Regions from separate parts of the Homo sapiens genome. Here regions 2, 3 and 4 are each linked to region 1. Evidence: fine-mapped expression QTL. A gene starts in region 1. Each other region holds a variant in brackets. All regions are shown on one strand. Distances are between the middles of the regions.

Region 1 (5,264 bases):
TTTCCACTGCGAAGGAGGTAAGCACTGGATTGAATACTAGGTCACTTCTCTAGGGGACTGTCTTTTTATTGAACAAGGCACGGCATAAATAAATGTTTAAATTCACTTTTTAAAATACTAGAACCCGGCCGGGCGCGGTGGCTCACTCCTGTAATCCCAGCACTTTGGGAGGCCGAGGCGGGTGGATCATCTGAGGTCAGGAGTTCGAGACCAGCCTGGCCGACGTGGTGAAACCCCGTCTCTACCAAAAATATAAAAAAATTAGCCGGGTGTGGTGGTGGGCGCCTGTAATCCCAGCTACTCGGGAGTCTGAGGCAGGAGAATCGCTTGAACCCGGGAGGCGGAGGTTGCAGTGAGCCAAGATCGCGCCATCGCACTCCAGCCTGGGCGACAAGAGCAAAACTCCGTCTCGAAAAAATACAAAAAAACCTGCAACCCAAGAAAAATAGTATTACTCTTTAAGTATACTGAGGCCCAAAACACTAAACAAAGGAAGACAGTAAAAGAAACGGGTTTAAACTCAATCACCTAAATAATAGAGGGGTATGGGGGAAAAAGAAAATCATCTGCCTAATCCCAGGCATTCCAATCGTTAGGAAGAGCAAACTTTAAAACTATCACTATGTTTAAGAGTCATAATTATTATCGAAAATGATGTAATTTTTTAGTCAGTAAAAAGGAATGCAAAATCTTTACATTTTCCTTTTAACGGAATAAAAATGAGGTAAGCACAAAATAATGTGGATCCGTCAGAATTGGGTATCTTATACACACGCAGGCTTATTGTTCAGAATAGATAATTTACGAACTGTAGCTCCTCTGGGGTCAACGAAGAGTTTTTTTTTTTTTTTTTTTTTTTTTTTTTTTTTTTTTTGAGACGGAGTCTCGCTCTGTCACCCAGGCTGGAGTGCAGTGGCGGGATCTCGGTTCACTGCAAGCTCCGCCTCCCGGGTTCACGCCATTCTCCTGCCTCAGCCTCCCAAGTAGCTGGGACTACAGGCGTCCGCCACTACGCCCGGCTAATTTTTTTGTATTTTTAGTAGAGACAGGGTTTCACCGTTTTAGCCGGGATGGTCTCGATCTCCTGACCTCGTGATCCGCCCGCCTCGGCCTCCCAAAGTGCTGGGATTACAGGCGTGAGCCACCGCGCCCGGCCAACGAAGGGTTTAAATTTAAAGGAACAAGGTCAGTGACAAGACTTAACTGTAACGCTTCTCGGACTTCAAATTGATTACATCACGGGCCACTTCGGAAACCGCGCATCAGTCAGAATTGGTAGTTCCACAACCTTTTAAGTTGAATTTTCACTCCCTTTCAGCAATACCTTCCTAGCTCGTTAATACACAATAATAAGGTTTACACGGACGAACACTAATTGAAATTATGCAACTAGAAGCATCTCATTGAGCGTACAAAAAAAAAAATAGCTACAAGTCGCTCTCTTCTCCCACACTACCCTTTACAGACACTGCCTTTTTGACCCAATACTTTTCAGAGACCACTCCTGATCGTCTTTCTCTTCCCCAGCCCCTTTCTCCACCGCAAATTCTCAGGCCCTAAAAAAAACTTAGAATAAATCACTAGCCAGGGTGAATAAGCGAAAATGGAGGAAGTTCAGTGAGGCGAAAGGAACGTAGGGTTGGGGAAGAGAGGAGGAAAGTTCTGGAAAAAAAAAGGCACTCCCTGCGGCTCCCCACCCCCACCAACACCGCCTTACTTCCCCCTCCCTACAGCAGGCAGCCATGATGGCGGGCGCAGAAGAAGGCCGCGGCGCCATTTTGTCTACACACATACACACGAACAAGGTTCTGGGAGCCGTTCACCCACTGTTGGAACGTAGCAGAAAAATATCCCTGGCTTTAAACTCAGATTCGGTACCTACCGCCATAGTTCAGAGTCCCGGCCGCTAGAGCGGCGCCTCCACTTGTCGCTTTCAACAGTACCGGCCGCTCCGAAGCTTCGCCTCAGACTAAATCGCTCGCGCGAGAGACCCGGATGGCACAAAGGCGAGGAGGCCCGGCGCGTCGCACAGCTTGCTGGGAGAAAAAGGGGCGGTAACAAAAGTTTCTATAACAACGCAATTCGAGGCGGTGATTGGGTGTTCTTTCATAGGGGAGTGTAAAGACCGTGAAGAGGGCGGGGCCAAGAATACACCCCCGGAATGCGCAGTCGGGAGAACGGAATGGGCGGAACTCAGGGTGGGGCAACTTCCTATTTCGAGTCTAAAGTAATCTTGGTCTCTTCCGGCCGCCGTAAAGGGGTTGGGTTTAGTGTTCTCCCGCCAATTTAAGCCTGTGGCATGGAACCTAAAGACTAGAGGCGGTTGTGTGAGTCAGGAAGAGGGGCCAGATATCTGAGTGTTCCTCTTTAGTTTCTTCAATTGCAGGTGAGGACGGGGAGCTGCGCTGTGTAGGGAACTGGGGGTGGGTTCAGGACGAAGTAGCTGCAGCCTCTGCTCAGTTCCTGTTGTTTTCCCCTTGACGCTGGCAGGAGAGAGGTTGGAGTCGGTTTTTGCTGGCGGCGATGTCCAGCGGAGAGCGTTTAAGTATGGAGGCCTAACTGACAAGTGTTTCATCTTGCTCATTCTCTCGTATTCGCGAATCTGTTCTGCATTCCGCCGCCAGAGTGATCTCAAAATTATAAAATCAGACCACTCGTTTGCTGAGTTCCCCTTCTACCCCTTGTACTGAGAATAAAATTCAATCTTGAGGTCGAGGTTTTATTGGACTCCACTGCTCTCTCCCTCACTGTCTTCTGCTTTTGCTTTGACCCGGCAGCAGCATCAAACGCTTCCTACCCAGCCTCCGAGTCTTTGCACTCTGTTCCCTCTGCCTACGTCGCGTTCCGCCTAAGTTTTGCGTACTTCTTGTTATTCAGGTCTCAGCTCAGATGTCACCTCCTTCCCTTCCCAAACAAATCCTTCTTCAGCGACGCCTCACCTTATCCATTTAATCACTGTTTCCTTCAAATCATTTAGCACTTTTTGTAATTATTTGTGCAGTTGCTTTTTTGTGGAGGTAGCATAACAAGATACGTATTAACAATTTTATTTTTGTCCGTTTTTCCCGCAAAAACATAAACTTCATAATGGCAAAGACATTTTGTGTTCTGTTCAAGCTATATTCCCAGTTCCTAGAAAGGTGTCTGGCACATAGTAAATAGGTATTCAATAAACATTTGTTGAATAAGTAAATATGGCAGTTACGGGCGGTTTCTCTATTTCACAGATGTGGGAAATTGAGACCCATAAAGGTATTCATTCCAACCTGTCCCTCCTTCTTCATCTCCTCACTCCCACCCAAACACCAGCCACTGAAACTTCTCTATTCTCCAAACATGTTTTGTTTCTGTTCCCTTGCTTATGCTCTTAGGAAGAACTCTTTAAACATTTATAAAACTATGATCTTCAATTCTCAGCCCAATAACAAATTAGCTAACACCTAAAATTGAATGTTTGCCATCAACCAAGCATTGTTCTGTGAACATTTAAAACTCAAAACATTTGGAGGCTGAAGCAGAAGGATTGCTTGAGCCCAGGAGATCAAGGCCAGCCAGGGCAAAATAGTGAGACCCTCGTCTCTCAAAAAACCAGAAGTGAAAAATAGAAAACTCCTTCAGGTGGGTACAACTAAATTAGTCCCTTGGTATTGGTATCCATGGGAGATTGGTTCCAGGACCTCCCACAGATACCAAAACCCTAGGATGCTTAAGTCCCTGTCATTAAATGGCATAGTATTTGCATGTAGCCTAGGAACATCTGCCTGTATACTTTAAATCATCTCTTGATTTCTTATCTTGCGTAACAGTGTAAATGTGCTATGCCTGTAGGTGCAATCTAGGGATGTGGAACACATGGATATTGACGGCAAACTGTATATATATATTTTTTTTCCAAGACGGAGTTTCACTCTTGTTGCCCAAGCTGGAGTGCAAGTGGCACGATCTCGACTTACTGCAACCTCCGCCTCCCGGGTTCAAGCAATTCTACAGCCTCAGCCTCCTGAGTAGCTGGGATTACAGGCGCACACCACCACGCCCGGCTAATTTTTTGTGTTTTTAGTAGAGAGGGGGTTTCGTCATGTTGGCCAGGCTGGTCTCAAACTCCTGACCTCAGATAATCCACCTGCCTAAGCCTCCCAAAGTTCTGGGATTACAGGTGTGAGCCACCGCGCCGGCCTGGTCTGTATATTCCTATTTTATAAATTAGAGAATTGAGGAACAGAAAGATTAAGTGATCACCCAAGGACAGCTGCCTAGTCATTGTGAAAGAGCACCAAGTCAGAAATTGTTTCTACCTTGTGCTATACCTTTTATAGATATTGAAACATACTTCTAGTAGCACTTATGAAACCAATTGTAATTATTTGATTATCATTCCCTACCAGTCTTGATCCAAGGATTGTTTTTATCCTTAGTGTTCTTTTCCCACCCAGACTCCAGGTAATATGGTTTATGTAAACCTTTGCTTTTTGAGATGGGTAAACCTCATAAGGTTTCAAGCTTAGTCTTTGATCCAGAAACCTAATTCATTTTTTTCTCCTCCCCTTATCATTTTTATTTGTTGTATAATAATACTATGATAGCATCAATGGACTTTTTCTGAACTTCATCTGGAATCTTATCATCCTATGATATCCCTGACAATCTGGCATCTAAACCTACACTGTTTGCTGCTATTAAAGGTTTATTTCTAATGAAAGGTTTATTTCTAATGAAAACTTGGTATAATTAAAGGTTTATTTCTAATGAAAACTTGGTATAATTCCAAACTAGACACACAAAGTAATGGAAGCTCTAAGATACATTGGTAAGATCAGAATTGTTGGTTTGTGTGCATAAACCAATATGTTGTTCTCTGGTAACCATCATAGCTCTAGTTCCATTTATGTTATTGGCCCGAAGTGTTTAGTGGCCACAGCAATAACAAGAAGACTAAGATGTCTGTATATGTTAATGTTAGACTTTTGTTTTTGTTTTGTGAGTAAGCTTTATCATTTCCCAAGGAACCAGGTTCTATGCAACAAGATAATATGGTGTCTAATTTTATGTTGTTCAGGAAAGACAGTGGTTCCTGACTCAGGAAGACAGTCTCAGAAACATGTGGAATGATATTGAGCTGCTAACAAATGATGATACCGGAAGTGGGTACCTGAGTGTCGGTTCAAGAAAAGAACATGGAACTGCTTTATATCAAGTAGATTTGCTAGTGAAGATCTCTTCTGAAAAGGTAGTGATTATTACACTGACTGTTTCATTCACAGAAT
Region 2 (5,000 bases), 160 kb before region 1:
GAGCCAAGATAGCTTCCTGAAACGCGTGAAGGAAAATGATCAGAAAAAGAAAGAAGCCAAAGAGCAAGGGACCTGGGTTCAACTCAAGCGCCAGCCTGCTCCACCCAGAGAAGCACACTTTGTGAGAACCAATGGGAAGGAGCCTGAGCTGCTGGAACCTATTCCCTATGAATTCATGGCATAATAGATGTTAAAAAATAAAATAAAATAAAGGACCTCTGGGCTATTTAAAAAAAAAAAAAAAGAAAGAACTGCTCCTGCTTCAAAACAAACTTGTGGCTGGGCACAGTGGTTCATGCCTGTAATCTCAGCACTTTGGGAGGCCCAGGCAGGAGAACTGCTCGAGCCCAGGAGTTCGAGACCAGGCTGGACAACATAAGGAAGACCCTGTCTGTACAAATAATAAAAAAAATTAGCCGGGCATAGTGGTGTGCGCCTGTGGTCCCACTCCTCAGGAAGCTGAGGTGGGAGGATTGCTTGAGCCCAAGGGTTTGAGGCTGCAGTGAGCCACAGTTGTACCACTGCACTCCAGCCTGGGTGACAGAGTGAGACTCCACCTCAAAAAAATAAAAAAGTAAATAGGCCAGGCACGATGGCTCACGCCTCCCAGCACTTTGGGAGGCCAAGGTGGGTGGATCACCTGAGGTTGGGAGTTTGAGAGCAGCCTGGCCAACATGGTAAAAACCTGTCTCTACTAAAAATACAAAAATCAGCTGGGTGTGGTGGCTCACGCCTGTAGTCCCAGCTACTTGGGAGGCTGAGGCACAAGAATAACTTGCACCCGGGAAGCGGAGGTTGCAATGATCCAAGATCACACCACTGCACTCCAGCCTAGGCGACAGGGAGAGACTCTGTCTCAAAAAAAAAAAAAAGTACTTCAAAAAATAATTGGCCCAGTGTGGAAGTTCACACCTATAATCCCAGCACTTTGGGAGGCTGAGGTGGGAGGATCGCTGGAGTCCCCAAGGCTGCAGTGAGCCATGATCACACCACTGCACTACAGCCTGGGCAATAGAACAAGAAACTGTTTCAAAAAATAATAATTGACTCTTGCTATTTTCCACAGTGAGGCTCTCTGTTTCTTCACAACTATTAAAATTATCCTTCCTAGGCTGGGTGCGGTGGCTCAGGTCTGTAATTCCAACACTTTGGGAGGCCAAGGCAGGCGGATCACTTGAGGCCAGGAGTTCGAGACCAGCTTGGCCAACATGGTGAAACTCCATCTCTACTAAAGATACAAAAATTAGCTGGATGCAGTGGCACATGCCTATAATCCCAGCTACTCAAGTGGCTGAGGCACAAGAGTTGCTTGAACCAAGGAGGCAGAGGTTGCAGTGAGCCAAGACTGTGCCAATGTACTCCAGCCTGGGTGACAGAGTGAGACCTTGTCTCAAAAAAAAGAGTACTAGTTCTAGACTTGACACATTTGACCTTTTAGTACTCGTTAGTACTAACACACAAATCATCACCTATATAAAATTGGTCTCACTGCAGTTGAGTCAAAAGAAAATAAAGTCGGCCTCAATTTTCTCCTTCCTCCCACACCACACCATTCAGAGCAGCAGTCCAGCCAGCATCATGTGAGCAGGACACAGCACATTAGTTAAAGATGATGCAACCTCTTCAGACAATGTGTTAAATTCTTTGGGGATGAGTCGAAGTCACTGTCATGACAATTGCTTTTCCAAGAGGCATCTAATAGGCTATAGTCAACAATTCTCCAAGCAAACTACAAGCTTCATTCAGATCAGCTTTGTAAAAAGTAATCACAAATAACAAATTAGCAACTATTTCTCTAAATGCAGGTAATATACATGTATCCTGAAAAAAAAATTATGTCACAAAATTTGTCTGAAATGAATGATTACTAGTTCCTAGAACAAAAAGTTTTCTTATATTCTTTCTCCCACCAAACATGGAACTCTTCACTCATTTAACAGAAAATGTATTTTTCTTTTCCCTGTAAAAAATCAGTAGTTATTCTATGGAGACAGAAAGTCAGGTGAAGTCCTAAAATCATCAAATGTTTTTCTACTTAATCATTCTACAATCAAAAAACGTGTTTACGCATTTCAACGGGACTTTACAAAGTTAGGTTTTATTTCTCATGTGTTCCAGACAATGCAGAAAAGTCTAGTACATGCACGTACAGGAAACAGAAGCATTAAATAATGCATTGACAATAAACAGAAGGCACTATTATCAAATCATATCTAAGAAATCTATGTTCTAAGACAAATATCTAAGTTATTAAAGAAAAACATTTTCAATATTGAAACAAAAAACAAGGCCAGGTGCAGTGGCTCATGCCTGTAATCCCACCATTTTGGGAGGCCAAGGCAGGAGGATCATCTGAGGCCAGGAGTTTGAGACTGGCCTGGGCAACACAGTGAGACTCCATCTCTACAAAAATTTAAAAATTAGCCAGGCATGGTGGCATGTGCCTGTGATCCCAGCTACTGAGGCTGCAAGTGAGCTATGATCATGACACTGCACTCCAGCCTGGACAAGACAGTGAGACCCTGTCTCAAAAACAAACAAAAAAACTAAAAGATAGATTCCCATGGCAAACACAAACAAGCCCAATTCGTTCTCTTTACTCTCAGAATGTTAGCATGTAACTCCTAATACTGTGGTAAAAGTCACTACTGAAGACAGAATTAATTTAAACTAGAAACGCAAAAAAAACCCTAGATACTATTTTTATGCTTTAGCAAACCTCAGATTTTTAAGTTCTCATTTATTTATTCAATATATATTTCTTGAGTGTTTGGATCCTTAAAAAACAAGGATAAACAGAATACAGCGTTGGCCATTGAGGGAGACAGACAAGAAGATTCAGACAAGAAATTCCTGTAAAAAGTGTTAAGTACATCAAGAGATTTCTACAAAATGCTGTGGGAACAGAAACAAATACCCTTCCTGTACGCTCCTGTAAAAAATAAAAACACTGATAAATTCCTGTTGGGTTAATGAGTGGGTGTCTACAAACAGGAAACAGAAACAATCCTCTCTGG[ACT/A]CTCTCATCTCTTCATTATCCAGTTCTCGGCAAGCCATTTAATCTCACAGTGCCTGAGTGCATAAAGCTATAAAATGTCTCAAGAGCAGTAATGAGGGGTTGTTTCACAGGAATTTTGTGAGCAGTCTTGTAAGGTGGCTTCTTATCTGCCATATTCCAAGATAAACAGCTTATTTTAAAAAGTAAACATGGAGGCCAGGTGGGGTGACTCATGTCTGCAATCCTAGCTCTTTGGGAGGCCGAGGCAGGCAGATCACTTGAGGTCAGGAGTTTGAGACAGGCCTGAAATTCTGTCTCTACTAAAAATACAAAAATTAGTCGGGCATGGTGGCAAGCACCTGTAATCCCAGCTACTCGGGAGGTTGAGGCGGGAAAATCACTTCAACCCCAGAGGTGGAGGTTGCAGTGACCCAAGATCACACCACTGCACTTCAATAAAAAAAAAATAAAATAAAATAAACATGGTTAGCTGGTATTTGCCAAATACAAATGTAAGCCTCACTTAAAACTTAATTGCCTGTGACATGAAAGAGCCAAAGCACGGTACTTTTTTTTTTTTCCTTCTTTTTGAGACGGAGTTTCGCTCTGTCGTCCAGGCTGGAGTGCAGTGGCATGATCTCAGCTCACTACAACCTCTGCCTCCCGGGTTCCAGAGATTTTCCTGCCTCAGCCTCCCAAGCAGCTGGGATTACAGGCATGTGCCACCACGCCCGGCTAATATTTTTGTATTTTTAGTAGAGACAGGGTTTCACCATGTTGGCCAGGCTAGTCTCCAACTCCTGACCTCAACTGATTCCACCCACCTTGACCTCCCAAAATGCTAGGATTACAGACGTGAGCCACCACGTCTGGCCACTTTTGATTACCTCAAGTAATATAATTACCTCCAGTGAAGGGCCAGTTCACCTTCCAGCAACTCTCCTACAGAGAAGGGTAAAATCTTCACTGGTCCTAAGTCGACCTCTGCTTGCCCTACTTTACTCTCTCCTTCATGGGTATAAAGTGACGACTGTATTCAAAACCCTCTGATTCTCTCCACACTATTTAATGAGCTCCTACTATGTGCCAGGCCCTGTCCTAAGTGTTGTGGGTGTGACAGTGAATGAGACAGAAAGTTTCCGTGCTTTCATGGAGGTTAAATTCTGGGCAGGGAGAAATGGACAATAAGCAAGTAAAAAAATGAAAGATAATTTTCAACTGGTGAAGAGGGCTATGAAAAAAATAAAACAGGGTAGTGTGACACTGCCATAGAAGGTGTCTTTAGTTGGGGTGGCCAAGGAAGGGATGCCTGAGGAGGTAACACTTGAGCATGACTTAAGTGACCACGAGGCACCGGGCACAAAACATCCCAAGCAGAAGAAACAACAAATTCTAAAGTGGGAATGAGTCTGGGTGTTTAGAAACAGCAAAGGGGGCCAGGCATGGTGGCTCACACCTGTAATTCCAGCACTTTGGGAGGCCAAGGCAGACAGATCATTTGAGGACAGGAATTCGAGACCAGCCTGGGCAACATGGCGAAACCCTGTCTCTACTAAAAATACAAAAATTAGCCAGCTGTGGTGGCTCACGCCTGTAGTCCCAGCTACTCAGGAGGCTGGGGCGCGACAATTGCTTGAGCCCTGTAGGCAGAGGGTGCAATGAGCCGAAATGGCGCTGCTGCACTTCAGCCTGGGCAACAGAGCAAAACCTATCTCAAAAAAAAAAAAAAAGAAGAAGAAGAAAGAAAAGAAACAGCAAAGGGGCCAGTGTAGCTGAAGCAGAGTGAGAAAGGGGTGTGAGAAGGACAAGAGGTCGGGAGGGTGGGCAGGGTCCAGAGAACAAGGGGCACTGCAAGTCCAAGGAAGGAGTTTCGATTTTTATTTTAATGCCATGAGGAGCCCCTTTAGATCACGATGTGTTGGTCTTCGTTGGTGCCATATCTACAACACCTGGAACAACTTCCGGTGCATAGCAGACGCTCAGGATATTTTCTGAATGAATT
Region 3 (5,000 bases), 76 kb after region 1:
CCTTGTGCAGCTTTTAAAAACAGCCTTTGATACCTTTTTTTAGCATGTATGTTTATCCTCACAGGTAATTTTAGAGGTGAGAAAATTGTAGCTCTTTATTTTTTTATTTTTATTATTTATTTTTGAGATGGAGTCTCGCTCTGTCACCCAGGCTGGAGTGCAGTGGCGCAATCTCAGCTCACTGCAAGCTCCGCCTCCCGGGTTCACACCATTCTCCTGCCTCAGCCTCCCGAGTAGCTGGGACTACAGGCGCCCACCACCACGCCCAGCTAATTTTTTTTTGTATTTTTAGTAGAGACGGGGTTTCACCGTGTTTGCCAGGATGGTCTCGATCTCCTGACCTCGTGATCCACCCGCCTCGGCCTCCCAAAGTGCTAGGATTACAGGCGTGAGCCACCGTGCCCGGCCGATTGTAGCTCATTTTTAAGGGAGTAATTAATTTAACAATGTAGTGCAGTGACATTTTTATATTTGTAATCTGTGCTGATTATTGTAATTGAATAAAATTTCAACATGGCAAAGTCTTATCAAGTTTTGATATATTTTTGTTTTTATACAGTTGGATCCTTATGACTATGAAATGATTGAAGTTGTCTTGAAAGTTATAGAACGAGCTGATGAAAAGATAACCAATATTAATATTAATCAGGTATAACAAATATATCAAAGATGTAAAAATCATCTTTCTGCTTTTATTTGGATCATAAATCATATCATTATCCAGGGCCTTTCCAAATTATCCATTGAATTCCCTTTAAACTCTGTGGTTTATTTTAGGTTTTTAAAAATCTTTACAAATCTTTAAAAAAAGAAAAAGATTTTCATGACATTCCTATTTTATCACTTATCTTCATCCTTTTTTTGCTGTTTTGAGGTGATTTAAATAACCTCTCCTGCTGTCGAAGAGTATGAAGTCACTACAGAACTAATTGTGAAGAATTAAGGAAACATTTGCCATGTAGGAAGTGAAAAAGGCCATGGGACTGAGAGTTAGGTCAGCTCTGTGTATTAATGGGTAGGTCCAAGACCTACTCAATTATGTCTCAGTACTTTCATTAACTTCTTCATCGTTTCTGAATTTTGGTCATAGTGGCTTTTATACTTTTTAATTTGATTTTAGAAATTAATATTTTAGAAATATTTTAATATTATGTTAATAAGACTTATTATATAAGAAAATATATCAATTCAAAAGATTATACAAAGTGTCCTAATATAAAATATAAACATAGGAAAGATAAGAGCGTAGAGAATTTAGATCTGTAGCCTCTATATTTAAAATGAAATCAAGTATTTTGAATTATATCTCAAATTATTTGAAGAGCAGATAACTGTCAAGCTCTTATTTACAAAACATCTACCAACAACAGGGCACCAGTGGTTTCTCCTCATAGGATTCCTTTAATCATTGTATATAAATTATAGTTTAGATGAATAATGTTAAAGAGAATACTAGAAAAGGTTTTGATCCTCTTTCTGAAAACAAGATGGTCTCAGGAATGGAAACTTTTGATGGTATACTATTAGATGATTTTATGACAGTTTAGGATTGGGTTACTCTTACTGGACAAAAGTTTTTTATTTTAATATAGGCATTGAGTATTCTGAAACATTTGAAGTCATACAGAAGAATTTCTCCTCCCGTGGATCTAGAATATCAGTATATGTTGGAACATGTCATAACTTTGCCATCAGCTGCCCAAACTAGACTGCCTTTTCACCTGATATTCTTTGGCACAGCACAGAACTTCTGGAAAATTCTCTGTATGTGTTCATTAACTTTTTATGAATTTTACTGGATAGCCAAATTTTTTTTCTTAAGCAAATCGTACTTTCCTTGTTTCCTTTCTAGCTACAGAACTCAGTGAAGAATCTTTCCCAACATTGCTCTTAATTTCGAAATTAATGAAGGTAATGGATTAAAACATTGTAAGACATTTCTGTATCCTGCAATTAATTCTGACCCCGTATAGAAGATTTTTCTGCTGCTTTCATGTAAAACCTTATATGTGAATATGTGCTTCAGCCATAACCTTCCTTTTCTTTGAAGTTCTCTCTGGACACTCTGTACGTGTCTACAGCAAAACACGTTTTCGAAAAAAAACTGAAGCCAAAGCTCCTGAAGTTAACACAAGCTAAATCCTCAACACTGATTAACAAGGAAATAACTAAGATCACGCAGACCATCGAATCCTGCTTACTCTCTATAGTCAACCCAGAGTGGGCTGTAGCTATTGCCATCAGCCTTGCCCAGGATATCCCTGAAGGTATGAGCTCTTCTTTTAAAATTGTAGTTAAAAAAAAAAAAAAAGTACTCTTTTTGCATCTTTAAGGAGAAGCAGGATGGTAGTTTTCAAATGTATTTGCTTGCTCTCTTAACTGTGGTGAATGCTGAAACGCTCAAGGGCAGTGGGCATGGGCAGGGAGGCAGGCAATTTCCAACTTGTCCTTGTGCCGCCTTTGGGGTGTGACCTTTGCTAGGAATAGGCAGTGATGGGTACTTTTAATATCCAATCACACTTTCTTTTTTTTTTTGAGATGGAGTCTTGCTCTGTCGCCAGGCTGGAGTGTAGTGGCATGATCTTGGCTCACCGCAACCTCCACCTCCCGGGTTCAAGTGATTCTCCTGCCTCAGTCCCCCGAGTAGCTGGGACTACAGGTGCGCGCCA[T/C]CATGCCCGGCTAATTTTTGTATTTTTAGTAGAGATGGGGTTTCACCATGTTGGCCAGGATGATCTCGATCTCTTGACCTTGTGATCCGCCCGCCTCGGCCTCCCAAAGTGCTGGGATTACAGGCGTGAGCCACTGCACCTGGCCCAATCGCACTTTCAATGAGGAATCTTTAGATAGTCTCACATAACCAAACAGGTGCACAAGCATAGGCACTCACTGCTACATTTTTGGTTGTAACAAAAGTTGAAAGTGACTTTTTAAAAAATGCTCAGGTCAGGAACTGGTTAGAAAATAGGGTGTATTCATAGAACGAAATATTATGGGGCTGATTTGGAGAGATATCCAAGATATGAAGTGAGAACAGCAAATTATACTAGAATATGTATGGTATTACCCATTAGGGTTAAGATGCACATGCATGCATGTGTGAACACAGACTGACACACACACACAGAAAACTCCTAAAGGCATATAAGAATTTAGAGAATAGGAATGGAATCTGATGAGAGGGCCCCGGTGGGCTTTTTTTTTTTTTTTTTTTTTTTTAACAGAGTCTTGCTCTGTCGCCCAGTTTGGAGTGCAGTGGCGTGATCTTGGCTCACTGCAACCTCTGCCTCAGCCTCTCGAGTAGCTGGGACTACAGGCATGTGCCACCATGCCCAGCTAATTTTTGTATTTTCAGTAGAGACAGGGTTCTTCCGTGTTGGCCAGGGTGGTCTCAAACTCCTGACCTCAGGTGATCCACTTGCCTTGGCCTCCCAAAGTGCTGGGATTACAAATATGAGCCACTGTGCCCAGCCATGAGTATGCATTTTTGTAATTTTTAAAAAGTTGCTAATTTGACCAAAATACATTTTCTTGAAAAGATTAAGATTTGCCTGTAAATCTTTATTTATTTATTTATTTATTTATTTTAGGTTCCTTCAAGATATCTGCTTTGAAATTCTGCCTTTATTTAGCTGAGAGATGGCTACAGAATATCCCATCGCAGGTGTGTCTGAACTATCAGATTGGCGGCTTCTCTTCTTCCTAATTAAATTGTACTAGCTTAATTTACCTTCTCATGCTGCCCTGGTGCCTAAAATGGAGAAGGAAGACCAAGGCTTTATGTAGATGCTTAGGAACATAACTGAGGAAGGGGGGAGGGATTGTGATTGATAAAGATGGATGCTTGGCTTCAACTGAGGCTTACAAAGTAAGATTTTCTTTTTGCTTGGAATTGTTTAAAAGGACGAAAAACGTGAAAAAGCCGAGGCTTTGTTGAAGAAGCTTCATATCCAGTACCGGCGATCGGGCACAGAAGCTGTGCTCATAGCCCACAAGCTGAACACTGAGGAATATTTAAGAGTGATCGGAAAGCCAGCACATCTTATTGTCAGTCTCTACGAACATCCTAGCATCAATCAAAGAATTCAGAATTCATCTGGCACAGATTATCCTGGTGAGGACAAAACAATTTTTTTGTTGTCCAAGAAAAGCTATTATTTTGATTCTCAGTTTTATGTATATATGTACGTGTACATATATATTACTTACATATGCTTATATATGTATATACTTATATGTGTATGTATGTGCATATATACACATACACATATAAGTATTCAATATAAATATTTAAAACTTGAGTTTTTCTTTTCTTTATTTTGAATATCTTAGATATTCATGCAGCAGCTAAAGAAATAGCCGAAGTCAATGAAATTAATTTGGAAAAAGTCTGGGACATGTTGTTGGAAAAATGGCTATGCCCTTCAACAAAACCTGGTGAAGTAAGTACTTGCTGCCCAAGAGTATCTGTAGTTGAGTATGCACTGATGGCTTCTTCTCAAAGGCTAAATATTTATCCCACATGATACAGCCTTCTAATTAGGAGCGCAGACTCTTCAAAGAAGGAAGTTTCTTTGTTTGTTTTGTTTTTGAGATGGAGTCTTGCTTGTTGCCCAGGCTGGAGTGTAATGGCGCGGTCTCGGCTCACTGCAACCTCTGCCTCCTGGGTGCAAGTGATTCTCCTGCCTCAGCCTCCCGAGTAGCTGGGATTACAGGCGCCTGCTACCACACCCGGCTGATTTTTGTATTTTTGGTAGAGACGGGGTTTCACCATGTTGGTCAGACTAGCCTCGAACTCCTGACCTTGTGATCCTCCTGCCTCAGCCTCTCAAAGTGCTGGGATTACAGGCGTGAGCCACTGCACCTGGCCTCTTTTGTTTGTTTTTTAAAGACAGAGTTTCGCTCTGTCACCCTGGCAAGTGCAATGGCACAATCATGGCTTACTGCAGACTCGAATTCCTAGGCTCAAGCAGTCCTCCCCACCTCAGCCTCCCGAGTAGCTG
Region 4 (5,264 bases), 290 kb before region 1:
TAGCAGCAGCTGTGGCTGCTGGTCTCCAAGATCATCAAGAGATACACCTGGAGAAGGCTGAGGTCACCAGAGAGGGGGCTGAAACAGTGTTTTCAGCTGAGTACGGAGTGGCCACAGACTGCTAGAAAAGTACACGTGGCAGTTACCATGGAAACGAAGTGGCCAGATGCTGAAGAAGCAAGAGTTGCCCCTGCTCACTGTGGGACCAGTTGGATGTTGGGCCCTTGATGGACAGAAGAGAAAACGGAAACCTCAATGGAGGCACCCACCACTGCTGTGTCTGGAGTTAACGTGTGTGCTAAGAAACTGTCTTTGAATTACTTCAAAGGCTGAATTCTCAGAAGGTTGCTCCCCAATTATCACATTCTTCCATGTCAAAAGCCCCTGATAAGTATGGAACCTAAGGAGATGTAGCTGATCACATAGAGCATAAACTTTGTTTCTGGGCAAGAAGCTCCCCTAAACCTCTTGCTTTGTAAGAAGTAGAAGGAAGCAAACTTGCCTTAGTGATCAGTTGCGACAGTGACTGATGACCCTAAATATAATCTCCCACACTCTGCAGGAAAAAGAAATCTCAACTCAGTGATAAAATGATCTCCAGCTCCCAACACTTAACCACTGTCCTAGGCCTGATGCGCCTTGAAGAAATACAGCACTGGGGATTAGAGGATGAACTTTCTCTTTTTATTTTCAGTTTCACCTCCTCAGTCTCAGCTTTCTTATTTTAAGAGCTGGCCCCGTTTGTCTGGCTGAATGGATTATCTACCCCCACCATCCTTAATGTATTTCCAGAGGTCTCTAATGAAGACCCTGAGCTTAGAAAACTCAAAACCAGTGCTGCTTTTACTCAGGTTGATTTTCTTCTATTCTTCTTTCTTCAGCAGATTAGGGGCCAGGCACGGTGGCTCAGGCCTGTAATCCCAGCACTGTGGGAGGCCGAGGCAGGTGGATCACCTGAGGTCAGGAGTTTGAGACCAGCCTGGCCAACATGGTGAAACACCATGGCTACTAAAAATACAAAAATTAGCCGGGTGTGGTGGTGCATGCCTGTAGTCCCAGCTACTCAGGAGGCTGAGGCAGGAGAATTGCTTGAACCTAGGAGGTGGAGGTTGCAGTGAGGTGAGACCGTGCCACTGCACTCTAGTCTGGGTGACAGAGCAAGACTCCGTCTCAAAGGAAAAAAAAAAAGGGAATACAAAAGAGACGGAGAAAGCAGTAAACAGTAGTATAATTTAAGAAGCTGACCCCAGAATATATTCTGTATTCCCATGTTTCTTCTATGGGGTTTTACTTCCTTTCAGCAATTTCTTCAAAGAGGTAGTTTATTCTGCAGTACACTTGTTAAGTCTCCTCTGAACATCCTAGAAAGGTTTTTCCATCAGAGCCTCTATCCAACTGGTTCCATTCATTAGTTTAGTGGTGGCAATGACATATTCTGTACCTCCATCTTCCAACTGGGAGAGAAATCGCAGGGCAGCAATTTCAGCGAAGGTTACGCCCCCAAGGAAAAATATCAGAGTCACTCGGTTTTCTCCCGGTTGACCTAAAATTTAAACATTTCAGAATTAAAAACTATTTATTATTAATGCTTCTCTTCCCACCTCTTCAAACATTTTATCATTCATAAGAATAAACAAGTGCCTTCATCCAGACAGTTCATCTGAAACCTAAGAATACTGATTTTGATCTCAACATTTTTTTTTAACTTCTGAGATTCTCAACACAGAAGTTGAAAGCTGCTATCCCTCAGGGAATAATCCGATTCGAGTTCTTACTACATACATTAGCAACGAACAAAAGAGGTGTATTTAATTCTGACTCCTAAGTGCTTTACTATTTTACAAAGCAACTGTACAATACCTGAAAACCACACTAACAGTACATAATTATCTGTAGATGCTGGACTGGGACTTACGTTTCTTCTGCAGTCCTGTGGGCAGTGGCTGCCGCTCCTCAAAGTGGGGCCCTGGGAGGATGCGGAGGACCTCCTCGATGCTCCGCCAGCCAGGCCGGGAAAGCAGCTGGGCCAGCCGCACACTGAGCGGGGCATACCCACTGTACACATACGATATGTCCGTGGGGTTCTGTGAGATAATTAAAGAACAAAAACCCTATAGATACAGAGACTTAGAGCTACCTGACTGTGGCCTTTTGGGTAATCCAAAATTATTTGATTTGGATTTAAAGATATACAACCCCCACCCCTGCCATGCCTTGTTCTAATCCACCCTAGCTGGGCTCAATTTTTAGCAGCCAGAGCTTCAATTTTGACTGAAATCTTGAAAAGCCACTCAAAGCAGCTCTAGGTACAGAAGATGAAGAATTATTTGGTTTGGCATGAAACTTTTTTTTTTTTTTTGAGACAGAGTCTGGCTCTGTCACCCAGGCTGGAGTGCAGTGGCATAATTTCAGCTCACTGCAACCTCCGCCTCCCTAGTTCAAGCAATTCTCCTGCCTCAGGCTCCCAAAGAGCTGGGATTACAGGTGTGCACCACCACTCCTGGCTCATTGTTGTATTTTTAGTAGAGACAGGGTTTCACCATGTTGGCCAGGCTGGTCTTGAATTTCTGACCTCAGGTGATCCACCTGCCTCGGCCTCCCAAAGTGTTGGGATTACAGGCCTGAGCCACCGCGTCCAGCCAGCATGAAACATATTGGGGGGAACTTGGCACTCCCTAGCTGAGCAATGATGTGCAATAACCTTTGAACTTAGCAATTCTACTTTTAGGCATTAATCCTACAGAGGTGCTTGCAGAACAAAAGATAATAGACCAAAGTATAAACGTATTAACTGCAACACTGCATGTAACAGTAAAGACTGGAAACAACCTGAATTTCTATCAATAGCAATCTGTTAAATCATTAAATAAGGTATAGCCTCAAAACCAC[T/C]ATGTAGCAATTTAGAAAAATTAAAAAGAAGGGGAAGATCACAGAAGACCCTTCAAGATCCTTTGTTAAGTGGTGGGTGGGTCCAGAGTCAGAAAGGTCAGAACAGTGAAGACAGCTGAACTAATATGTACATGATAGACTCTAGACATTAAGGGTCTCTATTTTCCCACCGGGAAAAAATCATTTAATTTTGCTCCTGACAGAGGAGACTGTCTAGTTATGAGCTTTTGTTGCAAGAGGCGGCCTAATAAAGTTCCTTATGAAAAACCAAAAAAGACTGAAATTTAGAAACATTAGAATAAGTAATAAATGTAAAGCAAAGTGCACCCCACTTTGGAGACCAACAGTAGAGAATATGCACTCTTTATGTAAAAATGTATATGCACAGAATCTTTCTGGAAGGATAGATAAAAAACTGGCCACAGTGGCTGCCTCTGAGGGGAAACTGTGGAAGGAAACTCACTTGGCCCTGATGGCCCTGCTTTTGCATAGCTTTTTTTTTCCCTTTTTCTTTTTCTTTTTGAGATAGGGTCTCATTCTGTCGCCCATGCTGGAGTGCAGCAGTGCAATCTCAGCTCACTGTAGCCTCAACCTCCCAGGCTCAGCCTCCTGGGAGGCTCCCACCTCAGCCTTCTGAGTACAGTAGCTGGGCCTACAGATGCATGCTCCACCATGCCCTGATCACTTTTGTATTTTTTAGTAGAGACAGGGTTTCACCATGTTGGCCAGGCTGGTCTTGAACTCCTGACCTCAAGTGATCCTCCTGCCTTGGCCTCCCAAAGTGCTGGAATTACAGGTGTGAGCCACCGCGCCTGGCCATGGCTGGCTTGTTTATGAGTGCTGGACATCTCCACTGACTCCTCTAGACACTCTCCACCCTTCTCCGCAATGCTCTGTGCCCGGAGATGGACCTGTGCGTCCCACACCAACACACTCCAATGCCTTCTCTTTGGGTCTGACCAAGACAAAGCACCAGAGTGAACTGGAGAGTGGGCAGCAGTGTGAGGATGACGTTGTCACTGGCCAGCTTCCTCTGCTGGAGGTTGACCATACCCTCAGCCAGAGGCCCCTCACCCCTTACCTCACCAGATGGCCTCACCACAGCTCTTCTCTCCAGGTTCTAAGACAAGTTTCTAGAACACCCCCCTCTCCTTGTCCTTCAGGCCGTGGCTGGCAAGGGCTCCCCACTGCACTGCCTCTCCACTCTTCCCACATCTTTATTTATTTGAGACAGAGTCTTACTGTGTAGCCCAGCCTGGAGTGCAGTGGCACAAACATGGTTCACTGCAACCGCCTCCTGGGCTCAGTGATCCTCTAACCACAGCCCCTCGGACTAAAGGCTCATACTACCACTGGCCATTTTTTTTGTAGAGACAAGGTTTTGCCATGTTGCCCAGGCTGGTCTCGAACTCCTGGACTCAAGCGATCTGACCCTTCAGCCTCCCAATATACTGGGATTACAAGAATGAGCCACCGAGCCTGCCCCATAACTTTTTTTTTTTTTTTTTTGAGACAGAGTCTTGCTCTGTCGCCCAGGCTGGAGTGCAATGGCATGATCTGAGCTCACTACAACCTCCGCCTCCCAGGTTCAAGCAATTCTCCTGCCTCAGCCCCCCAAGTAGATGGGATTACAGGCACGCACCACAATGCTGGGCTAATTTTTGTATTTTTAGTAGAGATGGGGTTTCCCATGTTAGTCAGGCTGTTCTCAAACTCCTGAGCTCAAGTGATCTGCCCGCCTCGGCCTCCCAAAGTGCTGGGATTATAGGTGTGAGCCACCGCGCCCAGCCCACATCTTTATTAAACTCTCCAGAAACTCCCCAGTTTAAGAGCATTCTCTGTGTCCTTCTAGGATTCTGATGGATACAATACATGCATACATTACTTTTTCAAAAACATTAGAAAATTGTTTTCAGAAAGCAAGGCAGATGTGTAGGTTCAGAAGCATGTGTTGTCACCTGGACGATCTAACCAGTCCCTAAGCTGAGACGAGGTGGAGAAGTGTGGCTTACTTGCTCATTAACATCATCCATCCAGAGGCGTAATGTTTTCCGTATAGTTGGGTAATTGTTTCTGCCCCCCGTCTGCGGTTTCAGCAGGCCGGCCTTCTCCAGGTTGTGTAAGGTCAATATGTGCTCATAGCCGTATGTCTGCAAGGGAAGTCATTTGGCCTTGATGTCAGATCAGGAAAAGGATTTCTGCAATTTTCAAAGAAGGGCACTTCCAACAAATCAATTTGGTTTGTACTGCAGGACATGTTACCAAAGTCCAGCAATGTTAGTGGATGGGCACAGAGGACAGGGTGGAGGGATGAAACTTGTCCTAAAACTGCTTGCCTGTTACTATTAATTCAGCTCACTGTTTCAAAGAGAAAT

Evidence for each region. PIP is the estimated chance that this variant, and not a neighbour inherited with it, causes the effect.
Region 2: its variant is fine-mapped to the expression of KNTC1 in cerebellum (GTEx, PIP 0.99).
Region 3: its variant is fine-mapped to the expression of KNTC1 in whole blood (TOPMed, PIP above 0.99).
Region 4: its variant is fine-mapped to the expression of KNTC1 in whole blood (TOPMed, PIP above 0.99).

Annotation. Positions count from the first base shown.
Region 1 is chr12:122,524,966-122,530,229 of GRCh38, forward strand. KNTC1 (kinetochore associated 1) reads left to right here and starts at 2,284. Exons shown (of 64, transcript NM_014708.6): 1 at 2,284-2,386; 2 at 5,026-5,227. The coding sequence starts at 5,099. RSRC2 (arginine and serine rich coiled-coil 2) reads right to left here and starts at 1,971. Exons shown (of 10, transcript NM_023012.6): 1 at 1,883-1,971. The coding sequence starts at 1,888. RefSeq lists enhancers at 1,651-2,110, 4,218-4,317.
Region 2 is chr12:122,365,449-122,370,448 of GRCh38, forward strand. All of the region lies in intron 3 of CLIP1 (CAP-Gly domain containing linker protein 1), which reads right to left. It also overlaps the pseudogene RPL21P1. Among named protein-coding and RNA genes, the nearest start is that of CLIP1-AS1, 28 kb to the right of the region's middle. The variant ACT/A (reference allele first, on the strand shown) is at 3,018.
Region 3 is chr12:122,600,977-122,605,976 of GRCh38, forward strand. It overlaps KNTC1 (kinetochore associated 1), which reads left to right. Exons shown (of 64, transcript NM_014708.6): 45 at 560-649; 46 at 1,593-1,764; 47 at 1,853-1,911; 48 at 2,051-2,267; 49 at 3,588-3,661; 50 at 3,901-4,111; 51 at 4,330-4,439. Among named protein-coding and RNA genes, the nearest start is that of KNTC1, 76 kb to the left of the region's middle. The variant T/C (reference allele first, on the strand shown) is at 2,670.
Region 4 is chr12:122,230,885-122,236,148 of GRCh38, forward strand. VPS33A (VPS33A core subunit of CORVET and HOPS complexes) reads right to left here. Exons shown (of 13, transcript NM_022916.6): 11 at 4,902-5,039; 12 at 1,916-2,084; 13 at 1-1,543. The coding sequence ends at 1,362. Among named protein-coding and RNA genes, the nearest start is that of DIABLO, 7.5 kb to the left of the region's middle. The variant T/C (reference allele first, on the strand shown) is at 2,890.